Regions from separate parts of the Homo sapiens genome. Here region 1 is linked to region 2. The links come from fine-mapping of genetic effects on gene expression. A gene starts in region 2. The other region holds a variant in brackets. All regions are shown on one strand. Distances are from middle to middle.

Region 1 (12,012 bases), 300 kb after region 2:
TGATTGCGCCACTGCACTCCGGCATGGGTGACAGAAATATACAGGCAGGGACAAATATTTTTATTTATGTATTTATTTATTTATTTATTGAGATGGAGTCTTGCCCTGGAGGGTGATGGCGAGATCTCGGCTCACTGCAACCTCTGTCTTCCAGGTTCAAGCGATTCTCCTGCCTCAGCCTCCCATGTAGCTGGGATTACAGGTGCATGCCACAACGCCCAGCTAATTTTTTTTGTATCTTTAGTAGAGACGGGGTTTCACTATGTTGGCCGGGCTGGTCTCAAACTCCTGACCTGGTGATCCACCTGCCCCGGCCTCCCAAAGTTCTGGGATTACAGGCATGAGCCACGACGCCCAGCCAAGGCAGGGACAAATTTGAGGAATTTTTTAGAAGGTAAAATTTGCAGGACTTGGCTGGGCACAATGGCTCACACCTGTAATCCCAGCACTTGGGAGGCCAAGGTGGGTGGGTCACCTGAGGTCAGTAGTTCAAGACCAGCCTAGCCAACATGGTGAAACCCCATCTCTACAAAACTACAAAAATTAGCCAGGCATGATGGTGGGTGCCTGTACTTCCAGCTACTTGGGAGGCTGAGGCAGGAGAATCTCTTGAATCCAGGAGGCGGAGGTTGCAGTGAGCCGAAATTGCACCATTGCACTCCAGCCTGGGTAACAGAGCGAGACTCCATCTCAAAAAAGAAAAAAAAAATTGTAGGACTTAGTGATTAACCTAATACAGTGAATAAGGAAGAGGGAGGAGGCAAAGGTGATTTGAAGGGTTCTAGATTGAGTGATTGGGTGGATGTGATGTCACGACTGGAGTAAAGAATATGGGGTACTATCTAGTTCAAGTGGGGAGCTGATGTGGTGGTTAATTTTATGTGTCAACTTGAGTGGAGCAAAGGGTGTCCAGATATTTGGCCAAACATTATTCTGGGGGTGTCTGTGAGGGTGGTTCTAGATGAGATTAACACATTGATAGACCGAGTAAAACTGATTGCCTTCCTCAGTGTGGGTGAGTCTCTTCCAGTCTGTTGGAGGCCTTTATAGAACAAAAGGCAGGGTAAGGGAGAATTCATTTTCTCTGCCTGACTGTTTCTGAGCTGGGACATTGGTCTTCTCTTGCAGGTGAACTGGAACTTACACCTTGCTTCTCCTGTTCTCAGGAGACTTGGACTGGAACTATACCACCAGCTGTCTCGGATCTCCGGCTTGCAGACGGCACATCATGGGACTTCTCAGTCTCCATCACTGCATGAGCCAATTCCTTATAATAAATCTCTGTCTCTCTCATTATACATATCTTGGAGAACCCTCAGGAACCTTGACTAATACACAAGATAAATTCAGTTTTAATTGTATGTGAGGCATTGTGGTGGAGATATATACTAGATACCCACACGCAAGTGGGCAAAGGTCTGGGATCAAAATATCTATTTGGGAATCTTCAGCATATGGGTGATAGTTGAAATCATAAAAGTGGTTGAACTCTTCTGGGACTCTCATATATTGTAATAGGATGAACGGCAGAAAGAACAGATACAGATACATGTAGGTTGGTTAATCTGATGGTTGGAATGTGGACTTCGTATTCGATGTACTTGGTGTGTGTGTCTTTGTTTATAATGAAGTCAATTACTCAGTAATGTGCATATAATAAATTCCGTAGTGTGTGTGGTTCAGTCACTCTACTAGTTTTTAAAACTGTTCCGCTAAAGCTCTCAGTTGAAAGAACCCATGGTGGTGTTGTTATACATAAATATCTTTACTTGATAGACCTCATTGACTACAGTCAGGATTCTGGTAGATAAATTGGGCAGATGAGATGACCTCCCAACCCTTCTCTGGTGCTTTCTGAATAAGGCCTGTGTTTGTCTGGCTGTACCATACATTTTATTTTCTCTTTCATTCATTTCTAAGCCTCAGCAACAACCCCCTTCTCCAACACCTTGATATAAATTGCCTTCAAACTCTAATAGAACTTGAGAATGTTGATAACCTCAAACTATGGTATCCTGATGTTTCCATAGTAACTAATGCACACCAAGGGGGAAAAGATGCGAGAATAAATGAGAATAGCATTTTAACAAAATAAGTGAGGGGCAAAGAGGCTTTAGACATGTTATTACCTCTTGTTTAGGAATATGAAAATATTCATCTCCTTAATAATGGGGTTATAAAAGTTGCTACAATGAGACTTGTCAGTAGCCATTTATATTTCATTTTTCTCTATAATCATCATCATCAAAAGCATTTAAATGCTTCTCTGCCCAACAATACTGTAGAGAGTGAGTTAAATGGACATAGTTGCCATTTTCCTGTGAACCTGCAATCACAATAGGACAGGGTAGGCCAATGTCTGTATTCCAGTCTCCCCAGCAGAGTTTTGACCTAGTGGATATTAGGAGGAATGGGGATTCAAAGAAGACAAATCAGTGTTGTGGCATTTGTTTGCTTTGATACAAGACTTTACTAGCATCTCAGCACTTCCTTGGTTAAAGGGTGGGAGAATAGGGTGCTGCTGTTTCTTCTTTCCTATTTCATAAAAAGGAGGCTTTCTGTAAGCCAGGAAGAGAGCACTCTCAAGTAATCAAATTGGCTGGCACCTTGATCTGGGACTTCCAGTCTCCAGAACTCTGAGAAAATACATTTGCGTTGTTTAAGCCAGTGAGTCTGTGGTATTTTGTTATGGCAGCCTGAGCAGCCTATACACCGGTCAGTGTACATGCACAACCGATTAAGCTATTGTTAGATAGGAATAGATTTAGTAAGGGTGAAGAGAAGACTTTTTATTTTATGTATTTGTTTGAGACAGAGTCTCTCTGTCATCCAGGATGGAGTGCAGTGGTGTGATCATGGCTCACATCAGCCTTGACCTTCCAGGCTCAAGTGATCCTCCCACCTCAGTCTCCTGAGTAGCTGGGACCACAGGCATGTGCCACCATGCCTGGCAAATTTTTGTATTCTTTGTAGAGATGGGGTTTCACCATGTTGCCCAGGCTGGTCTTGAACTCCCTCTTGCCTTGACCTCCTAAAGTGTTGGGATTATAGGTGTGAGCCACCATGCCCGGCCTAATATTTTTATTTTAGAATTAGAGAGATTAGGCCAGGCACAGTGGCTCACGCCTGTAATCCCAGTACTTTGAGAGGCCGAGGTGGGTGGATCACTTGAGGTCAGGAGTTCGAGACCAGCCTGACCAACATGGTGAAACCCTGTCTCTACTAAAAATACAAAAATTAGCCAGGTGTGGTGGTACGTGCCTGTAATCCCAGCTACTCAGGAGGCTGAGGCAGAAGAATTGCTTGAACCCGGGAGGTGGAGGTTGCAGTGAGCCGAGATCACGCTATTGCATTCCAGCCTGGATGACAGAGTGAGACTCTGTCTCAAAAAAAAAAAAAAAAAATTAGAGAGATTAAATTTCCACAGATAAGTGTAATAACTGGTGGGGTATCTATCTAACCCAGAACAGAAACACAGAAAGTAGAGGGACAGAAAGTATACTGAACAGCTCCAGGTAAGGTAGATAGCATGGCTGGGATTCCGCTTAACCTGATACTTTCCCCATTTAGAAGAGAAAGGTTAAAAAGCACATTCTTCTTCTTTGTCTTCTTTTTTTTTTCATACTCATATCACCTTTTGAAAATTAGTCTTCAGTTTAGCTTTTGTGCAATGAATTCAGAGGTTAGAAGCAAGATGTTTTGGGAGGTAGGGTGAGGCTCATCAGTGAGAATGAAAGCCAATTTCCTAGACTTGCCTGGGGAAGGTATATTAGAACGGGGGCCATTTGTTCTCAATGTTCAACTCCCACTTATGAGTGAGAACATGCAGTGTTTGGTTTTCTTTTCCTGTGTTAGTTTGCTGAAGATGATGGCTTCCAGCTTCATTCATATCCCAGCCAAGGACATGATCTCATTCCTTTTTATGGCTGCGTAGTATTCCATGGTGTATATGTACCACATTTTCTTTATCCAGTCTATAATTGATGGGCATTTGGGTTGGTTCCACAAACCTGCACGTTCTGCACATGTATCCCATTTTTTTTTAGAAGAAATAAAGAAAAAAGAAAAGAAAAGAAAAAAAAGAATGGGGACCATTTATCTTGGATGGCCAGAGGTTTGGTAGACATCCTCAAGTTTAGACAGGCCTTAGAGTTCAGATGAAAAAGGAGTGTATCTTCATATTAGAGGCTCAGTTTGGACAAGGGAAATTTCAGTGTGTGTGTGTGTGTGTGTGTGTGTGTTTAAAATTTGTGAAATTTGATCTTACAGTCACTGGGAGAAGGCAGAAATTTTGAGGAAAAGGAGTCCTCAATAAAGCATTCTTTTACCCTAAGGTATTTGGTCTCTTGTCATTATTACATCCAAATTAAAACAAGACAAGGAACTATGTATTCCTTGATAAAATGGTCTTCACTTGTAATCTGTATTAGAGTACTTAAAACTCCTGATCAATCAATTATATATCGTACATTGAAATGTACTTAAAATTTTGTCACTGCAACTTTTTCACACCTCCAATTATCCTTATTTATTTATTTTTTGAGACAGAATCTCCCTCTGTTTCCTGGGTGGGAGTACAGTGGTGTGATTATAGCTGACTGCAGCCTTGACCTCCTGGGCTCAAACGATCCTCCCAGGCTCAAGCAATCCTCCCAGTTCAGCCTCCCAAGTAGCTGAGACTACAGGTGTGCACCACCATGCCCAGCTAATTTTTTGACTTTTTTGTAGAGATAGGGATCTCGCCACATTGCCCAGACTGATACCGAACTCCTTGGCTCAAGTGATCCACTTGCCTTGGCCTTCCAAACTGCTGGGATTACAGTTGTGAAACACCACACCTGACCTAATTTCTTTTTAGTTTTTTCACTGTGTGGGATTCAGAGTCTAATAGATTGCTGAAATACATATTTAATACCTCAGTTTTAAATATAAGAAATATGATAATATTATATCCAATTGTAGCTGTGCAGAGGTTTGGCTTAAGATCCAAATACTATAGCTCAGCCGGGCACAGTGGCTCACGCCTGTAATCCCAGCACTTTGGGAGGCCAAGATGAGCGGATCACCTGAGGTCAGGAGTTCAAGACCAGCTTGGCCAACATGGTGAAATCCCATCTCTACTAAAAATACAAAAATTAGCTGGGTGTGTTGAGACTTGCCTGTAATCCCAGCTACTTGGGAGGCTGAGGCAGGAGAATTGCTTGAATCCAGCAGGCAGAGGTTGCAGTGAGCTGAGATCGTGCCACTGCACCCCAGCCTGGGCAACAAGAGCAAGACTCTGTCTCAAAAAAACAAGTATAGTTTTGTACAATATACTGATATAAAAATTAATATTTTTGTATAGCTAATATAGGCACATGGAGCAAAGTTCCAAAGTTATCAAAGGGCATACACTGAAAATTAGGTCTCTCTTTCTCCCTTATCTCCAAGTTCTCCAGTTCCTTCCCCTGAAGGTAACCACTATTACAAGTTTCTTACGTTTCCTTTTACAAATATTCCACAGTGCATTGATTCTGGAACAAGACATTTCCCCCTCCTTAGCAAGCTCTCAGTATCTGGCAGCAAAAAATGTTGCTCTTCAAGGTGAAAAACTAATGTTCCGAGTAGTAGCATGGAACAGTGACCACTCTTGTTCCTTCTCAAACTCCTCCTTAGAAACCATATTCCCAGACCGGATCAGCAGACATTTGTCTAAACTACTTCTAGCTGGACATAACATGAACACAGACACCTTTATCATGAGTGTACAAGAACCCAAACACCTAACACATCCAGAAGTTTAATATTTATTTAGTGCATATGTGTAAAAAAGTAGGTGCTTTTGGTAGGTTGTTGAGCAAGGAGGGGGTTGTGGTTTTATGCAAGATGGAATCAGGGAGAAATTATTCACTCTTTTCCAAGAAGTTGGAGAGGATTTCATCAAAGAGGTGCTGTGTAAATGACAGAAAGGAGATGCAGAGAAGGTATTACAGCATGAGTTGTGGTCTGGGAGAAATGTTGGAATTGGGGTTTGGGATAAAAGAAAGACGGTAGTGTTGAGTGTTGACTCGTGAAGAGCAAGGGGAGGCATTAGATTGACAGGAGGAGGCAGTGAAGGGAGAGTGAGGTAATATGGGATTTGCATTTGTAGATAATGAAGGCTTATATAGGACCTGTGGACAGAAGTCAGTAAAGAACTCTGTATTTACTATGCTTCCTATATTCCTAGCACTGCTGTTGGAACTATCACTTGGTCTAGAATTTTTCTCTGAGGCACTAAAGAATGGATTGTGGGTCTGGGCGCGGTGGCTCACGCCTATAATCCCAGCACTTTGGGAGGTCGAGGTGGGTGGATCACTTGAGGCCAGGAGTTCGAGACCAGCCTGGCCAACATGGTGAAACCCTGTCTCTACTAAAAATACAAAAATTAGCCAGGCATGGTGGCATGTGCCTGTAATTCCAGCTACTCGGGAGGCTGAGGCAGGAGAATCACTTGAACCCGGG[A/T]GGTGGAGGTAGCAGTGAGCCGAGATCTTGCCATTGCACTCCAGCCTGGGTGACAGAGTAAGACTCTGTCTCAAAAAAAAAAAAAAAAAATGGATTGTGGGATAGTATGGTGGGTTTCCTACATCATGTTCTTCTCACAGGTTGACTCTATTTACTAAACAGTCATAACGCTCCGTAATAACTTGTTATGCATCTATGATCCACACATTTATTTAAAGCAGGGTTCCTTAGCCTTGCCCCTATTGGCATTCTGGTTTGAATAACTCCTTGTTGCGGCAAGCTGTCCTGTGCATTATAAGATGCTTAGCAGCATCTTTGATGCCAGTAACACTCTCCCAAAAATGTCTTTAGACATTGGCAAATATCCCTTCGGAAGGGGGCAAAATCACCCTCATGGGGAACCACTAATATAAAACCTCACAAACCTATGTTTTGTTCTGGAAATTGTAAATTCCCCCCACATTTTTTTTTTTTTTTTTTTTTTTGGAGACGGAATTTTGCTCTTGCCCAGCTATTTTTGTATTTTCAGTAGAGATGGGGTTTCTCCATGTTGGTCAGGCTGGTCTCGAACTCCCGACCTCAGGTGATCCGCCTGCCTCGGCCTCCCAAAAAACTCCTTTAAAAAATTAACATCTAAACTGGATGTGGTGGTGCTCATCTGTAGTCCCAGGTACTCCAGAGGCTGGGGTGGGAGGATCTCGAGCCCAGGAATTAAAGGCTGTAGTGCGCCATGATTGAGCCTGTGAATAGTCACTGCACTCCAGCCTGGGGAACACAGCAAGACCCTGTCTCAAAAAATTAACATTTAAAAATCTTTATCAAAATAATGCATTGGGCTGGGTAAGGTGGCTCCCGCCTATAATTCTAGCACTTTGGGAGGCTGAGGAGGGTGGATTGCTTGAGCCCAGGAGTTCAATACCAGCTTGGGCAACATAGCAAGACCCCCATCTCTACAAAAAATTTTTAAAAAATTAGCTGGGCATGGTGGCATGCATCTGTAGTCCCAGTTACTCAGGAAGCTGAGGTGGGACGATGGCTTGAACCTGGGAGGTTGAGGTTGCAGTGAGCCATGATTGCACCATTGCACTCCAGCCTGGGTGACACAGCAAGACCCATCTTGAAAATAATAATAATAATAATCATGATAATAATGCATTTATGTAAATAAAAATCACTCATAATAGAAAGCAACTATCTCCTGCCTTGCCCCTGCCTACCTGTAGTCCCATTCCCTAAGAACTGCCACTTAACTGTTTCTGGTTTGGGTTTTTCTAATGATTTCTGCCATATACATTCACCTGTTTATCCATTTACTTAAACAATATATTAGTTGAGCACTGTGTTTGTTTGCTCGGGCTGCCATCACAAAATACCACTGGGTGGCTTAAACAATAGAAATTAATTTTCTCACCATTCTGGAGGCTGCAAGTTCAAGATCAAGGTGCTGGCAGGGCTGGTTTCCTTTGAGGGCCACCAGGGAAGGATCTGTTCCAGGCCTCTCTCCTTGGCTTGCAGATGGTTGCTGTCTTGCTGCCTCCGAACCTGGTTGTCCCTCTATGCATGTGTGTCCCTGGTGTCTCTTCCTCTTCTAAGGACACTAGTCATATTGGAGCAGGGCCATACCCCAATGGCCTCAGTTTAATTTAATCACCTTAGTGAAGACCTTATCTCCAAACATAGTTTCATACTGAGGTACTGGCATTTCAGTACATGAATTTTGGGGGACACTATTCAACCCATAGCAAGTACCTACTGTGTGCCAGTCACTGTTCTAAACACTGGGCATGGAACAGCCAACAAAACGGATGAAAATCTCTGCTCTTGGCTGGCGTGGTGGCTCAAGCCTGTAATCCCAGCACTTTGGGAGGCCGAGGCAGGTGGATCACCTGAGGTCGGGAGTTTGAGACCAGCCTGGCCAACGTGGCGAAACCCCATCTCTACTAAAAGTACAAAAAATAGCCGGGCATGGTGGCAGGTGCCTGTAATCCCAGTTACTTGGGAGGCTGAGGCAGGAGAATCGCTTGAACCTGGGAGGTGGAAGTTGCAGTGAGCCAAGATTGCAGCACTGCAATCCAGCCTGGGTGACAGAGTGAGACTCTGTCTCAAAAACAAAAACAAATAGAGTAGCCAGGGAAAACCTCTCTGAGAAGTCGACATTTGAGTAAGGACCTGAAGAAGGTGATAGAGAAAGTCATGCAAATGTCTGGGGAAGGATAATTCTAGGCAGAAAGAACAGCTGGTGCCAAGGTCCTGAGGTGGGAACATGTCCAGTTTGTTCAAGGAACAGCAAGGAGGCTCCTGGGGCTGGTGTGAAATGAGCAAGGGGGAGTAGCAGGAGCTGCAGGGGTCGGGGGATGGTGAGGCAGATGATGGCATAAGGCCTAGTAAACCATTGTTATGGCTTTGGCTTTTGTTCTGAGTGAGATAGCAAGCCATTGGACAAGTCATGGGTGGAGGTAGGTTTCAAAAGAATCTCTCTAGCTGCTCTGTGAATAACAGACTAAAAGGGGGTTAGGGAGGAAGCAGGGAGACCAGTAAGGGGAATGTTGCAATAATCCATTTTTTCTGAATCCTTCCTTGGTTTACCAGCTCTAGACATCCTCTATTGAGCTGCTCTGATAGGTGGGGATTTAGCTCACTTCTGCTGCAGCACTGCCTTTTTCTTCCTGCTAATACATCACTAGTTTTAGTTTCTCTGTTTAGGTCCTTTCCCCAGAGGCAATCATTCTAATGGTATCTTTTTGTTTGCATGCCTTTTTGGTTATCTTTGTGCCTTTTTTTTTTTTTGAGACAAAGTCTTGCTCTGTTGCCCAGGCTGGAGTGCAGTTATGTGATCATAGCTCACTGCAGCCTCGACTTCCTGGGCTCAAGTGATCCTCCCATCTCAGCCTTCTGAGTAGCTGGGGTGACAGACTTGCATCACCATGCCCAGCTAATTTTTTGATTTTTTTTAGAGACAAGTGTCGCCATGTTGCCCAGGCTAGTCTTGAACTCCTGGGCTCCAGCAATCCACCACCTCAGGCTCCAAAAGCCCTGTGATTACAGGCATGAGCCACTGTGCCTGGTCTCTTTGTGCCTTTATATAAGGTACATAAACCTCTATTTCTTGTTCATCTATAGATAATATCTCTTAATTGTACACTTTCTAAAATTAGAGTATTAGTGCCGCTACACATCCTTCCACCTCCCCTCATTCTATTTTCCAACTTCTGTAAGCTATGCTTTTATATTAAGTTTTTAACATTTCCTTTATACTTTGTAATCATAGTTAAATTTCCTGTGATTTGTCTCTAGGTTAGATTCCAAAAGTTGAAAACCAATAAAGATAGTATTTACATTGTTATAATTATATAAATATTTTTCAGTGTAAAGCCAAGGGATGTGCCTTGATTGCATTTTCTTCTTTATAGTTCCAATGTCACAACCTCCATCAATAACTCTATATCATTCCATATTCTAGCTGCCTTTATTATTAGAAAATGGCATTCTTGATTGCCTTTTTTTGTAGTTAAGCTAGATATATGCCTTCTTTACCATATCTCTGCTATCTTCCAGCTTCTTCCTTATTTTGTCTATTGCTTAGAATAAAGTCCATTCTTCTTAAAGCCCACTTCCTGTGTTAGTTCTTTTGTTGTCGTTGTCGTTGTTGTTGTTGTTGTTTTTCTTTTTCTTTTTTTTTTTTTTTATGAAGATGGAATCTTGCTCTGTCGCCCAAGCTGGAGTGCATGATCTGGGCCCATTGCAGCCTCCGCCTCCTGTGTTCAAGTGATTCTCCTGCCTCAGCCTCCCGAGTAGCTGGGATTACAGGCATGCACAACCACGCCTGGCTAATTTTTGTATTTCTAGTAGAGGCGGGGTTTCACCATGTTGGCCAGGGTGGTCCCAAACTCTTGTCAAGAGGTGATCTGCTCACCTCGGCCTCCCAAAGTACTGGGATTACAGGTGCAAGCCACTGCACCTGGCCTAAAAGTTGTATTTTATTAATATAAATGTTTAGACTTAATATTTAGGGGACACTTGCCTGTCGGCACATAGATAGTTAATTATTGAGAAAATATATATATATTTTTAACAAGAGTGTTCTTTATTTGTACAAAGCATCTTTGTGAATAAAGAATCTTCTCAGCATTCTTTATTCACAAACTTTTCACTATATTTATTTAACAAGTTAACAGTGTCAAACTACATGTTACTACCTGTCAAGCCCCAAGCGTTCAACTTAGAGACAAACAAAAAGTGCTTGGAGCACTGAATGGAAACAGAAAAAGGCTAAGAAAGGCCAACAGAGATATTTTAGAAGCAGTCAAAGAGGATGGTTTGGGGAGAGTTAGATTCCTGAGCAACATCAGATTTCCCTTAAGGTTCAGAGGGCCTTCACAAAATAATTTTTAGTAGACATGAGACAAAATTAGCTGGGCTTGGTGGCATGCATCTGTAGTCCCAGATACTCGGGAGGCTCAGGCAGGAGGATGACTTGAGCCCAGGAGTTCAAGCAGGCAGTGAGCTATGATCATGCCACTGTACTCCACCCTGGGCCAGAGTGAGAGAGAGACCCTATCTCTTAAAAAAATAAATAAATATGGCGGAGGGGCGCCAGCCATTGCTGAGGCTTGAGTAGGTAAACAAAGCTGCCGGGAAGCTCGAACTGGGTGGAGCCCACCGCAGCTCAAGGAGGCCTGCCTGCTTCTGTAGACTCCACCTCTGGGGGCAGGGCATAGCTGAACAAAAGGCAGCAGAAACTTCTGCAGACTTAAATGTCCCTGTCTGACAGCTTTGAAGAGAGTAGTGGTTCTCCCAGCATGGAGTTTAAGATCTGAGAACAGACAGACTGCCTCCTCAAGTGGGTCCCTGACCCCCGAGTAGCCTAACTGGGAGGCACCTCCCAATAGGGGCCTACAGACATCTCACACGGCCGGGTGCCCCTCTGAGACGAAGCTTCCAGAGGAATGATCAGGCAGCAACATTTGCTATTCTGCAATATTTGCTGTTCTGCAGCCTCCACTGGTGATACCCAGGCAAACAGGGTCTGGAGTGGACCTCCAGCAAACTCCAACAGACCTGCAGCTAAGGGTCCTGACTGTTAGAAGGAAAACTAACTAACAGAAAGGACAACCACACCAAAACCCCATCTGTACGTCACCATCATCAAAGACCAAAGGTAGATAAACCACAAAGATGGGGGGAATCCAGAGCAGAAAAGCTGAAAATTCTAAAAATCAGAGTGCCTCTTCTCCTCCAAAGGAATGCAGCTCCTCACCAGCAATGGAACAAAGCTGGATGGAGAATGACTTTGACAAGTTGAGAGAAGAAGGCTTCAGACAATCAAACATCTCTGAGCTAAAGGAGGATGTTCGAACCCATCGCAAAGAAGCTAAAAACCCGGAAAAAAGATTAGGCAAATGGCTAACTAGAATAATCAGTGTAGAGAAGTCCTTAAATGACCTGATGGAGCTGAAAACCATGGCATGAGAACTACATGATGCGTGCACAAGCTTCAGGAGCCGATTCAATCAACTGGAAGAAAGGGTA
Region 2 (12,012 bases):
CATGACCAAATCCATTTCTGCTGAGAGAAAAACAATTCAGTGCATCAGTGATATACCTGAAAGCAAATTGGAATGTGACTACTCAAGGACGTCCAAGTTACTCAGAATGGCATCTTCCAGTTAATAAGTTTATTAGCTGAGCTAGCAGATATATTTACAGCTAACCCTTTTATCATATATGTGGGTCGCCCATTTCTAAAACCCTACATTATACTACTCAGCATTAAAACTACCCAGATAAGGATTTCCTCTTAGTTGGCTAATCCAAAATCATCCTTATGAATACCAATTTTCATTGTATTATGTATCAATCATCATTGTACAGTATTTTTGGTTTTGATTAGTCTGATGCCTAGTTTGCTGGATCGTTCCCCTCTGTATTGGAAGTTAATGCCCCTGATGATCTTTATCTACAGAATAGCTTTAAGGTGGAGAGGGGTAACTATTAATTAGGTACATCCTGTACACAAAGTAGAAAGGGGCTTTGCCCTTTGCCAATTCACAGCTAGAATTAATGCTAACTTCCTGAGAGATATTAAAAAAACATATGTACATAATAAGATTATTTCAATGTAAGCTTCTAGCAAAAACTTGTCACTGAGTCTACTTTTGTAAGGAAGAAACTTTGATTTCTGAAAATATGATATCTCAAAATGGGCTTCTTGCCCTAATAAAAGGTGTCTGTTACTTCTGTGGGGTGAGACTTTGGGGGATTTCCACTTATATTTTTTGGAATTAATTCAATGAGTATATATTGCTTTTGAAAAAAGATAAAAATATAATTTTTAATTAAAAGGACAGGAAAACTACCTTATTGTACCTATTGTAAAAAAATTAAATGTACTGTACAATGCCCTTTGTGTTAATTGTGCATTATTAAATTACTTTCAAATACATGCAGTTGTTTTCATAGGTACCTGATTATCATGATTTTGACAGTGTTTTCCAGTCTCTTTTGCCATCAGATATAATTAACTTTGTATTTAATCAATCCATGATTATTGGTTTTTACAAATATCAATAAAAATCAATGCAAGGCTGTTAAAATGTTAAGTAAATATAAATAATTTTTACCTTACTTTGGAATTGATACTTTTTTTTTTTTTTTTTGAGATGGAGTCTCGCTCTGTCACCCGGGCTGGAGTGCAGTGACACAATCTCGGCTCACTGCAAGCTCCGCCTCCCAGGTTCACGCCATTCTCCTGCCTCAGCCTCCCAAGTAGCTGGGACTACAGGCGCCCGCCACCACGCCTGGCTAATTTTTTTGTATTTTTAGTAGAGACGGGGTTTCACTGTGTTAGCCAGGCTGGTCTCGATCTCCGGACCTCGTGATCCGCCCGCCTTGGCCTCCCAAAGTGCTGAGATTACAGGCATGAGCCACCGTGCCCGGCCTGGAATTGATACTTTCAATATTTATCCCCTGGCCTAAAGTGATCCACCCTCCTCGGCCTCCCAAAGTGCTGGGATTACAGGCATGAGCCACAGAGCCTGACCATATTTTCAATATTTATCCAAAGGAGCTCTAGATAAAATGTCACCCATTGCCTGCACTTCTGAACACTGATCTACTCTGCTTAATGGGTAAGGGAGCCCTGGATCATCTTCACCACATAATGACTACTTCCTAGGCCTGGCACAGTGGCTCACACGTGTAATCCCAACACTTTGAGAGGCTGAGGCAGCAGGATTGCTTGAGCCCAGGAGTTCAAGACCAGCCTGGGCAACGTAATGAGACTGTCTCTTAAAGAAAACCAAAAAACAAAACTACTTCCTGGGTTAAACTTCACAGAAGGGTGTCTTTGTAGGCCGGGCGAGGTGGCTCATGCCTGTAATCCAAGCACTTTGGGAGGCCGAGGCGGGCGATCACCTGAGATCAGGAGTTCAAGACCAGCCTGGACAACATTGTGGAACCCCGTCTCTACTAAAAATAGAAAAATTAGCAGGGCGCGGTGGCATCTGCCTGTAATCCCAGCTACTCGGGAGGCTGAGGCAGGAGAATTGCTTGAACCTGGGAGGCAGAAGTTGCAGTGAGCCGAGATACTGCCACTGCACTCCAGCCTGGGTGACAAAGGGAGACTCCGTCTCAAGAAAAAAAAAAAAAAAAAAAGAGTATCTTTGTAATTTCTTTCTTTTTCTTTTTTGAAATAGGGTCTCGCTCTGTCATCCAGGCTGGAGTGCACGGGAGCAATCACTGCTCACTGCAGTCTCGATCTCCTAGGCTCAAGTGATCCTCCCATCTCAGCCTCCTGAGTAGCTGGAACCACAGGCACATACCACCACGCCTGGCTAATTTAAAAAAAAAATGGTAGAGATGATGTCTCATTATGTGCTCAGGCTGGTCTGGAACTCCTGGCCTCAAGCAATCTTCCCACTCGTCCTCCCAAAGTACTGGCATTACAGGCATGAGCCACTGCACCCGGCCCTGTAATTTCATTCTCTATCCCCATTCCACCAAAAAAAAAAAAAAAGTAACTTCATTACCTCCAAAGTTAGGGCCCAACTCTTGCCAGTTCAAATCTGGCCCCCCACCATACTTGCCTGTCTTTATCACTACTTCTTTATTTTTTTCTTTTTGGAGACAGAGTCTTGCTCCATCATCCAGGCTGGAGTGCAGTGGCACAATCTTGGCTCACTGCAGCCTCCACCTGGCAGGTTCAAGCGAGTCTCCTGCCTCAGTCTCCCTAGTAGCTGGGATTACAGGCGCATGCCATGGCGCCCGGCTAATTTTTGGATTTTTTGTAGAGACGGGGTTTCACCATGTTGGCCAGACTGGTCTTAAACTCCTGACCTAAAGTGATTCACCCGCCTAGGCCTCCCAAAGTGCTGGGATTACAGGCATGAGCCACGGAGCCTGACCACATCAATACTTCTTAGTATGTACTCTCTATCATTGTCCCCCGAAAATGTGCTGGGTTTTGGTTTTTTAAAACAGTTCCAAGCCTTTTCATTTAACAAACAGCATGGTGCTTCCTCTAAGACACTTTACAAATATTAGCTCATTTAGTCTTCCGAACACCCTCCTGAGATTTGTAGATGAGGAAAATGAGGCACAATTAAGTGACTTGCCCAGGTGGCAGAGCCAGGATTCAATGTGGGTTGGTCTGGATCCAAGGTCAACATGTTTAACAATGAAAAATGTTATCTTTGGTCCGAAAGTATTCACCATCTGAAATATCAATCCTTTTCCTCTACTGTTTGAATTTTACTACTCATCCTTCAAGACACAACTCAAATAACTTCTTACACGAAGTTCTACCATAGTGATTCCATCCCATAGTCTTCTCTCTTGCTCTGTCCGGCACTACACCAGATATTATTTCAATGACCGGTATATGTCATCTCCCCAACTAGACAGTGGCCACTTCCTATATAGATGCTATGTCCAAATAAACCCATTGTAAACTGAAAATATCGTTAAGTCGAAACTGCATTTAATACCCTGATAAACCCATCATAAAGTCAAAAAACCGTAAGTTGAACCATGCTTAAGTCCAGATGCTCCTCGACTGACATGGGGTTAGGTCTCATTAAACCCATCATAAAGTCGAAAAATTGTAAGTCGAACCATTGTGAGGGGTAAGTCGGGGACCATCCGTACTTTTCATACCCAACAGAGCCCCTTTTATAGTACAATCCAAGAGGTAAGTGCTCAATAAATACTTGTTAAATGAATATGTAAGCTGAATCTTTGAAACAGGCACATTGTATGTTCTGCATGCAGCCAAAACATTATTTCCAATTTAGCTTATATCTGGCAGAGTCAAAACACTTATTTACACTCAGCCCCTCACCCTACTCCCATAACTGAAAGTTCTGCTTAGCAGACTTCTCTTCCCAGAAAGTCCGAGAAGCACGAACGCTTTTTGCTAACATCCTGCTCCCAAGCACAGAAACCACAGCAGGAGACTGTGTGTATCTGTAGCACCTGGTATACAGCATCTAGGACACACAACTGAACTAATAAATAAAGGTGACAGGCGGGAAGAAGAGCGCAGAATTACTTGTCCAGGAAACGGGTTGGGTGGGAAAGAGCCGGCAACTGGTAAAAGATGGAAGTACACGCCGGATCTGGGAAGCCAGGTTCCGCGCCTCGGACTCATGGAAAAACTGGATCTGGATCACTGCAAAAGAATCAGGAAGGCTTCGGTATCAAGTAACTGGTGTCCTAAAACCAAAAAACAAAGTGCGATGCCGGGGCTACGCTGTTGTGAGATGCTGTTATCAGTTCTCGTCACCAACACAGCGGCAGCACCAGGCACAACCGCCAATCAAAGCGGCCCCACGAGTCCCTCCTTGAACAGGTTCCTTAACTCGTTCAGTCCAACACTGTGCCACAAACTCGCGAAAACCGGCTACCTAGAGCCAGCGTCTTTGCGAGCTTGCGGCCAGCTAGTGCATGCGCAAATCCTCTCGCCGTGCGGACCAATCGCAATGCGGCAGCGAGTGCTACGCCTGCGCAGTAGGCCTCCGGTCGCCGTTCCCCTTCCCCGGCTCTAGCAGGCCGGCTTCTCTGTCCAATGCCCACCCGGAGCTGGGAGGAGGAGTCTGCGTAATGTGCGTGTGAAGAGACTGGGGGAGCTGGCCGGGGCTCACGGTGTTTGACCCGTCGGTCGTGCGTGAGAGGAAAGGGAAGGAGGAGGTCCCGAATAGCGGTCGCCGAAATGTTCCGGTGTGGAGGCCTGGCGGCGGGTGCTTTGAAGCAGAAGCTGGTGCCCTTGGTGCGGACCGTGTGCGTCCGAAGCCCGAGGCAGAGGAACCGGCTCCCAGGTGACTGACCCATTCCAGGCAACCTCCAAGTCCGAGGGCCTGGCGCCTTAGGCTCCCTGTGCCTTGCAGCCCTCTACCCCCGCGTCCCCGCGAGAAACTTAACACATAGTCACGTGAATTCCAAATTGGCAGACTCCGAACCCTGAGTCTTGCAAGCGGAGGAATTGGCTCAGCCATGCCGACCTGACCTTCAAGAGATTTGAACCCAGTAGTCGGCTTGAGGCCTTTTCCCGGGAGCGTTTGCTGTTCAGGGATCCCAGAACAACTGGCTGTCGGCGCCTCCCCGGCATCCCCACCCCCCACCCCCCTTTTTAGAGCAATGAGGTCAAGTAGACTTTGTCATTTACCGATTGAGACTTTAAACAGGACGTTTAAGCCCTACGCCTAAGTTTCTTGTGTAAATGAGGGTGTTATCTGCTCAGCCTTCCAAACCACAGATGAGATCCATGGATTTGAATGCCCAGTGAAACAGAAACGGTGCAGGGCAAGTAAGGAGTCGGTTGGTTGTGTACCAGACACCCAGAGAATTGGCCCAGACTTAATTGGAGATGCCTGAGCCGTGTACTTCTTGGTGGTCTTTAAGGCTTCAAAGAAACAGTTTGCAGAACGCATTGTATTTTGTTCTCCATTAAGTTGTTTCATCAAATTTTAGAGCTGGAAGGGATTTTGTGGTAAAGGTCAACCCACTCATTTTATAGATAATAAACTGAGGCACAGAGAGGTGAAATTACTTGCCAAAGGTCACATAGTTAATTAATAGGTAGAGCTAAGGATAGTTTGCTAGCCTCCAGGTCCTTAATCCCTTCGCTGCAACTCCATACTGCTTCCTAAAGTTGACCTCAAAAAGTTAAGAATGAATTCGGGTCTCTTCCCAGTAATTAGCCCATTGTACATCAGATATCCGTGAATTTATCTGAGCATGGCTTGAGCCTGCTTCTTTTCGTACTGCGTTACTTCATGGGGGCAATGAATGATCCACCTGTAGGAGTTGCTTTGAAAAAAAAATCAGTAATCCTTCAATGTCCACCCCTAGGGCATTTGCAATGTCAGAAGTTATCCTTGAGGCTTTTACAATACAGAAACACCTGGGTGCTTTAAAAATAAAAAGTGGAAAATATTTTCCTTGGGTTGTTAGGGTCTTTGCAAATGTGCATTTGAACAGTTTTTCCAGTTGCTATGCACAATGAAAATGTTTCCTGATAGGTGTATTTGAGTTATGTCCTGGGACATACTGCTCTTGGAACTTAAAACCTCTGCTTAGCTTTTAAACTAATGCCTTATCAATGGATGTCATCTTTGAGGGTTTTGTGTATTGAAATGATGGTGCTCTGTGCTTGTTGCACAGAAATTGAGATAACCTGAATTTTTTTTTTTTTTTTTTTTGAGACGGAGTCTCGCTTTGTCGCCCAGGCTGGAGTGCAGTGGCGCGATCTCGGCTCACTGCAATCTCCGCCTCCCGGATTCACGCCATTCTTCTGCCTCAGCCTCCAGAGTAGCTGGGACTACAGGCACCCGCCACCACGCCCGGCTAATTTTTTTTTTTTTTTTTTTGTATTTTTAGTAGAGACAAGGTTTCACCATGTTAACCAGGATGGTCTCGATCTCCTGACCTCGTGATCCGCCCACCTCGGCCTCCCAAAGCGCTGGGATTACAGGCGTGAGCCACCGCGCCCGGCGATAACCTGAATTTTTTCATCCACACTGGCCTTTCAAACTTTGAGTAGTTGTTTTGCTTAAGTCTCACAACTTTTACCAGCATTCTAAAGTCTGACCAAAAGTTCTCATCAATTAAATATGCATTTGCAAAGTTAAGTTGATTTATTAGACATTGGAAAGTGGTTGGTGTTGTTAGAACTACTGAAAAATACAGACTCAAATGGTTTTTTCCACTGCATGTCTTTGTTTGAAGGCAGTCTACTGTAGAATATATTCGGACTTCCTGACATATCCATCCATCTCTTTGCATACACTTGTTCTTTGTCCTTTGGCCGTGCACCAAAGTATGACATCATCTGCCTTTAAAAATGGGTGAGGGTAGTGTTAAATTTTCAAAAAGAAGTTCTGATACTCTCATTTTAGGAATTAACTCTGTTTTGTGGCTTGATTCCTAACTGCTTTTAATCTGATTTCTTTTTCATGTAGTAGCATCTACCGTGTGTTTTTGCACAGGTGGGAAAGAGCAAGGTTCGTTTATACACCATTTCTCCCTCCACCTTACCTTTAAACTTTTTTTTTTTTTTTTTTTTGAGGCGGAGTCTCGCTCAGTTTCCCAGAGTGCAGTGGCACGATCTTGGCTCACTGCAACCTCTGCCTGCTGGGTTCAAGCAATTCTCCTGCGTCAGCCTCCCAAGTAGCTGGGACTACAGGCATGCACCACCACGCCGGGCTAATTTTTTGTATTTTTAGTAGAGACGGGGTTTCACCATGCTGGCCAGGCTGGTCTCAAACTCCTGACCTTGTGATCCACCTGCTTCAGCCTCCCAAACCTTTAAACTTTAAACCTGCCTTGCAACTATCTCGTTGACATCTGTCACCATTGTCAGGTTCATTTCCATTATATGTTGCATTCTGCCTTAAAACCATGATAGCTACTATTTGTTTATTTACTTTATTTATTTGGATGCTCTGCCTCCTTCCAGAGATGATTGAAGGTAACTCATAGTCATCACTCTATGTCTGCATTCAGACACAGAGGAGCAGATAGGTTAGATAATAGACATTTTCTGTTCTATAATATTTTGTTTGGTCACCAAACAGTGCTGCCCATGTTATCAAACTGATCACCGACTCCCTGACTTTAGGTTCAAATGTTTGAACGTTTTTCTCTATTTGGAATCCTTCTCACCTCTTTAAAAAGGAAACTGAGCTCCTTGTGGGCAAGGATCCTGGCTTCCTGGACACTGCCAAATGTGACTTCGTTTTGAAGCCTAAAAGATGAGTCTTCCCCCGTTGTTTCTGCTGAGACAAGGCTTTGCAGAAGAAATTCTTTGGCAGCTCAGCCCTTTCTGTAACCAGTTAATAAGTTACATTTTCTAGAAATGTTCTAACTTTTTGAGGGAGTTACTGCATGTCTTAGCTTTCTTCTAGATCATGTTTCCAAAAGTTGCCTGCTCATGTGAATCGAGTAGAGAACCAGTTCCTAACCTTCTCCAGGAGATAATTCTGGGAATCTGTATTTTAACAAGCCCCTTGACATTCATATGATCAGACAAGTTTGGTATATACTGTTTTGGATGAGTAGTGACTCTTCCCCTTCTGTTTTGCTGACGTAAGGATTAAAAAACCAAACTGAGCAATCTGGAGTCTCTTGTGATTTGTATCAAGCTCATTTTCTCATATTCAGAATAGTAGCAGCCATTCTCCTAAATTAAACACTACCTGAGGACATGGATTATGTCCTATTTATTTTTGTGTCCTTAGCATCTTGTACCATCTCTGGCACATGGTAAATTCTCGTGACTGAACCCTAGTACAGCATTGTGAAGGACTTAACTTTGCAGAAGAGAGATTTTATTTTGTTATCTAAATAATTTTTCCTTGTGTGTCTTTCATCAGAATGGTTCACGCTGTACTATAGTTATTACTACTCTGTTTCTTCTAAAATTCCAGCAAGGGTTGATATTAAAAAATTAAAAAAGGCTGATAGCTAGGCGTGGTGGCTCACGCCTGTAATCCCAGCACTTTGGTATGCCAAGGTGGGCAGATCACTTGAGGTTGGAAGTTCAAGACCAGCCTGACCAACATGGAGAAACCCCGTCTCTACTAAAAATCAAAAATTAGCCAAGCGTGGTGGCACATGCCTGTAATCCCTGCTACTCGGGAGGCTGAGGCAGGAGAATTGCTTGAACCCGGGAAGTGGAGGTTGCGGTGAACCGAGATCACACCACTGCACTCCAGCCTGGACGACAGAGCGAGAATCTGTCTCAAAAAAAAAAAAAAAAGGCTGATAAATAGTTGTTGGATCCCTTGTAAAGAATCATTTATCTACAATGGACAGACTATCTAGGCTTGTCCTGTGTTTTTTTTTTTTTTTTTTTCTTCAAACAGAGTCTTGCTCTGTTGCCCAGGCTGGAGTGCAGTGACACAATCTCAGCTCACTGCAACCTCTGTCTCCTGGGTTCAAGTGATTCTCCTGCCTCAGCCTCCCGAGTAGCTGGGATTACAGGCACCTGCCACCACGCCCAGCTAATTTTTGTATTTTTAGTGGAGACGGGGTTTCACTGTATTGGCCAGGCTGGTCTCGAACTCCTGACCTCGTGATCCGCCCACCTCGGCCTCCCAAAGTGCTGGGATTACAAGTGTGAGCCACCGCACCTGGCTGTCCTGTGTTTTCTCCATGCTGGAAAAATCAGTTTGACCCTCAGGAAACAAGTCTCAAGAACGTATAGATCTCTTAACCATTTAGGATCCCTGGGTGCCTCAATTGTGAAGTTGTGTTTTTGGAAAACGCCTTTTGGGAGTATGGAAAAACAGGAAATCACAAAACCTACAGAAATGAACTTGCTAGTTTAGCTACTATTCTAATGCTGGTCTATGGTGTTTGAGGTTACTCATTTATGATTAAGCAACCTAAAATAAATGGAATCTGGCTAAAGCTTTTTTTAAAAAAAACTCTTAAGTTTATTTTTTCATTTTATTTATTTATTTATTTATTTATTTATTTATTTTTAAGTAGAGACGGGGTTTCACCATGTTGGCCAGGCTGGTCTCAAACTCGTGGTCTCAAGTGATCCACCAACCTCGGCCTCCCAAGGTGCTGGGATTACAGATGTGAGCCACCGCGCCTGCCCTGGCTAAAATTTCTTTGCAAAGAATTATTTAAAATGTTCAGTTATCCGGGCACGATGGTGCATGCCTGTAGTCCCAGCTATTCTGGAGGCTAAGGTGGAAGGATCACTTGAGCCCAGGAGTTTGAGTCTAGTCTGGGCAACATACTGATACCTTTTCATTTAAAAAAAATTTTAATAGTAATAAGAATGTTCAGTCAATATCAATAGAATTAGGAAGAATTTCTATTTCCTTCCTTCATTAATTCAACAAATATTTATTGAGCAAACATCTGTGTGTCGTCTGGCGCTGTTGCACAGGTCAAACTGGCTTCTTAAGAATGAAATCCTAAGTGTGAGGAAGAAATTGCATTGTATGTGTGGTCTGACTGCAGAAAACCTAAAATAAGTAAACTGCTGCCATGATGAAAAGTCAAGGAGTAAGTTGGCTTTTCCATGTTAGTAAGACAAGTGAAAAGGCATGTTTCAGTCACGATGTAATATTTCCTAAAATTTTGAAGCTATGGGGAGAAAGGTTTGGGAGGAATTTCATAGGGAAAAGAAAATGTGGGGAGGGGGAATGTAAGCAAACAATACTTAGTACATTTTACAAAATTAAAGTCACTTTGTAGGTATATAAAAAGTTTTAAAAGTTGGTTTATTAATGAGAGTAGTGTATTACATTTCTTTTCAAGCAGTAGTTTAAATATTAACCAGTTTACTTTTTTTTAAAGTCAATTTACTTTTCCAGCCTGGACAACATGGTGAAACCTCGTATCTACAAAAAATAGAAAAATTAGCTGGGCGTTGGTGGCTCACGCCTGTAGTCCCAGCTACACAGGAGGCTGAGGCTGGTGAATGGCTTGAGCCCAGGAAGCATAGGTTGCAGTGAGCCGAGATTGTGCCACTGCACTCCAGCTTGGGGACAGAGTGAGACCCTGTCTCAAAAAAAAAAAGTCCATTTACTTTTAAATGCTTTTTTCTTTTTTTTTTGGCAAATTGAGACAAAAGCTGCTGAACTTTCCTAAATCTACACTGTTAGTATTATCAGTTTGTGAAAAGCAAGCAGAAGGAGAATAAACATGAGTATGATATTAAAACAAATTTGTTATAATGTCTGTATTTAGGGTCTTCTGGAGGAATAAACAGAATTAAAAAAAAGAAAAACAAAAACAAAAAAAATTTATTTTTAGTAAATGAACCAGGGGTAGAGGTGGAGGACAAACTAAATTCATTGAACTAAATCACATGGAACTTTTCCTAACCAGTTTCATTTTCTAAGCTCTGAGAGTTACCACTTTCTACTTCTGATGGTTCATTATTTTTGTAAGCTTCTGAAAATCAAAAGCTTGCCCAGATTGAGATAAGTTTCTGCCCCGCTCACGTTTTTATTTTCATGATTTGTCATTATTTCCAAATCTCAACCATTTTATTTCATGTGGTGATGAAGAGTTCTAAAAGCAGGTAAGAAGAACAGTAAAGAAAAATACATTTCCTTTTCTAAGAGTGTAGATCTAAAGTCTCTTATCTGTAATTCAGAAATTGAAATTGTAGAATGACCAAAATTTAAGACTATCAAGTTTTCATAACTCATTTGCCAGTAAAACCTGACCTGAACTGGAGAGAGGCTACTTTATAATCTTTTTAAAATATCACTTAGCGTGATTGGTCATATTAATATGTTTAACTATGAATTGCTGCCCTTTACCTTGCTAGGTGTCACTATGTGGTATATGCCCCATATACTTAAGACCAGATAATTCAAAGTTCCAAATTATACATGGTCCCCAGGATTTCAGATGAGAGACCACAGATCCACATTGGGCTTGTTTTTACCCGTCTGTGGCCTAACGTTATGAAAGCAAGGGGGAAATTCCTTCTCTAATCTCTGCAAGTATACATGGGATGCTACTACCAGTGTCCATTCTGTTTGTCTTTTAAAGCCTAGACAGGACAGGGACATAAGTATCAGCCTCTAGACTAAGCTTGTCCAACCTGCAGCCCAACACAAATTTGTAAACTTTCTTAAAACATTATGAGATTTTTTTGCGATTTTTTTTTTTTTTTTTTTTTTTTTTTTAGCTCATCAGCTATGGTTAGTGTTAGTGTATTTTATATGTGGCCCAGGACAATTCTTCTTCTTCCCATGTGGCTCGGGGAAGCCAAAAGATAGGATATACCTGCTCTAGACAGATGGTTCTCAATGTGTGGTCCCCACCCTAACAGCAGCAGCAGCAACAGCAGCATCCCCTGGGAACTTGTTAGAAATGCACATTCTTGAGCCCCATCCCAGATCTATTGAATCAGAACCTCTGGGCCTGGGGCCTGGCCAGCTTTGTTTTATAAAACCTTCAGGGCATTGGGATACACTCTCAAGTTTGAAAACCACTGCTCTAGATCGGGGTCTGCCAACTACAGCCACAGGCCAAAGCCAGTCAGTCACCTGCTTTTGTATGCCCCAGGAGCCATGAGTGGGTTT

What was found.
Region 1: its variant is fine-mapped to the expression of AIFM1 in monocytes (TOPMed, PIP 0.98).

What each region holds. Positions count from the first base shown.
Region 1 is chrX:129,858,413-129,870,424 of GRCh38, reverse strand. No RefSeq gene overlaps it. Among named protein-coding and RNA genes, the nearest start is that of ZDHHC9, 21 kb to the right of the region's middle. The variant A/T (reference allele first, on the strand shown) is at 6,484.
Region 2 is chrX:130,158,306-130,170,317 of GRCh38, reverse strand. AIFM1 (apoptosis inducing factor mitochondria associated 1) reads left to right here and starts at 4,477. Exons shown (of 16, transcript NM_004208.4): 1 at 4,477-4,767. The coding sequence starts at 4,662. It also overlaps a transcript of RAB33A not described here. RefSeq lists an enhancer at 4,489-4,828.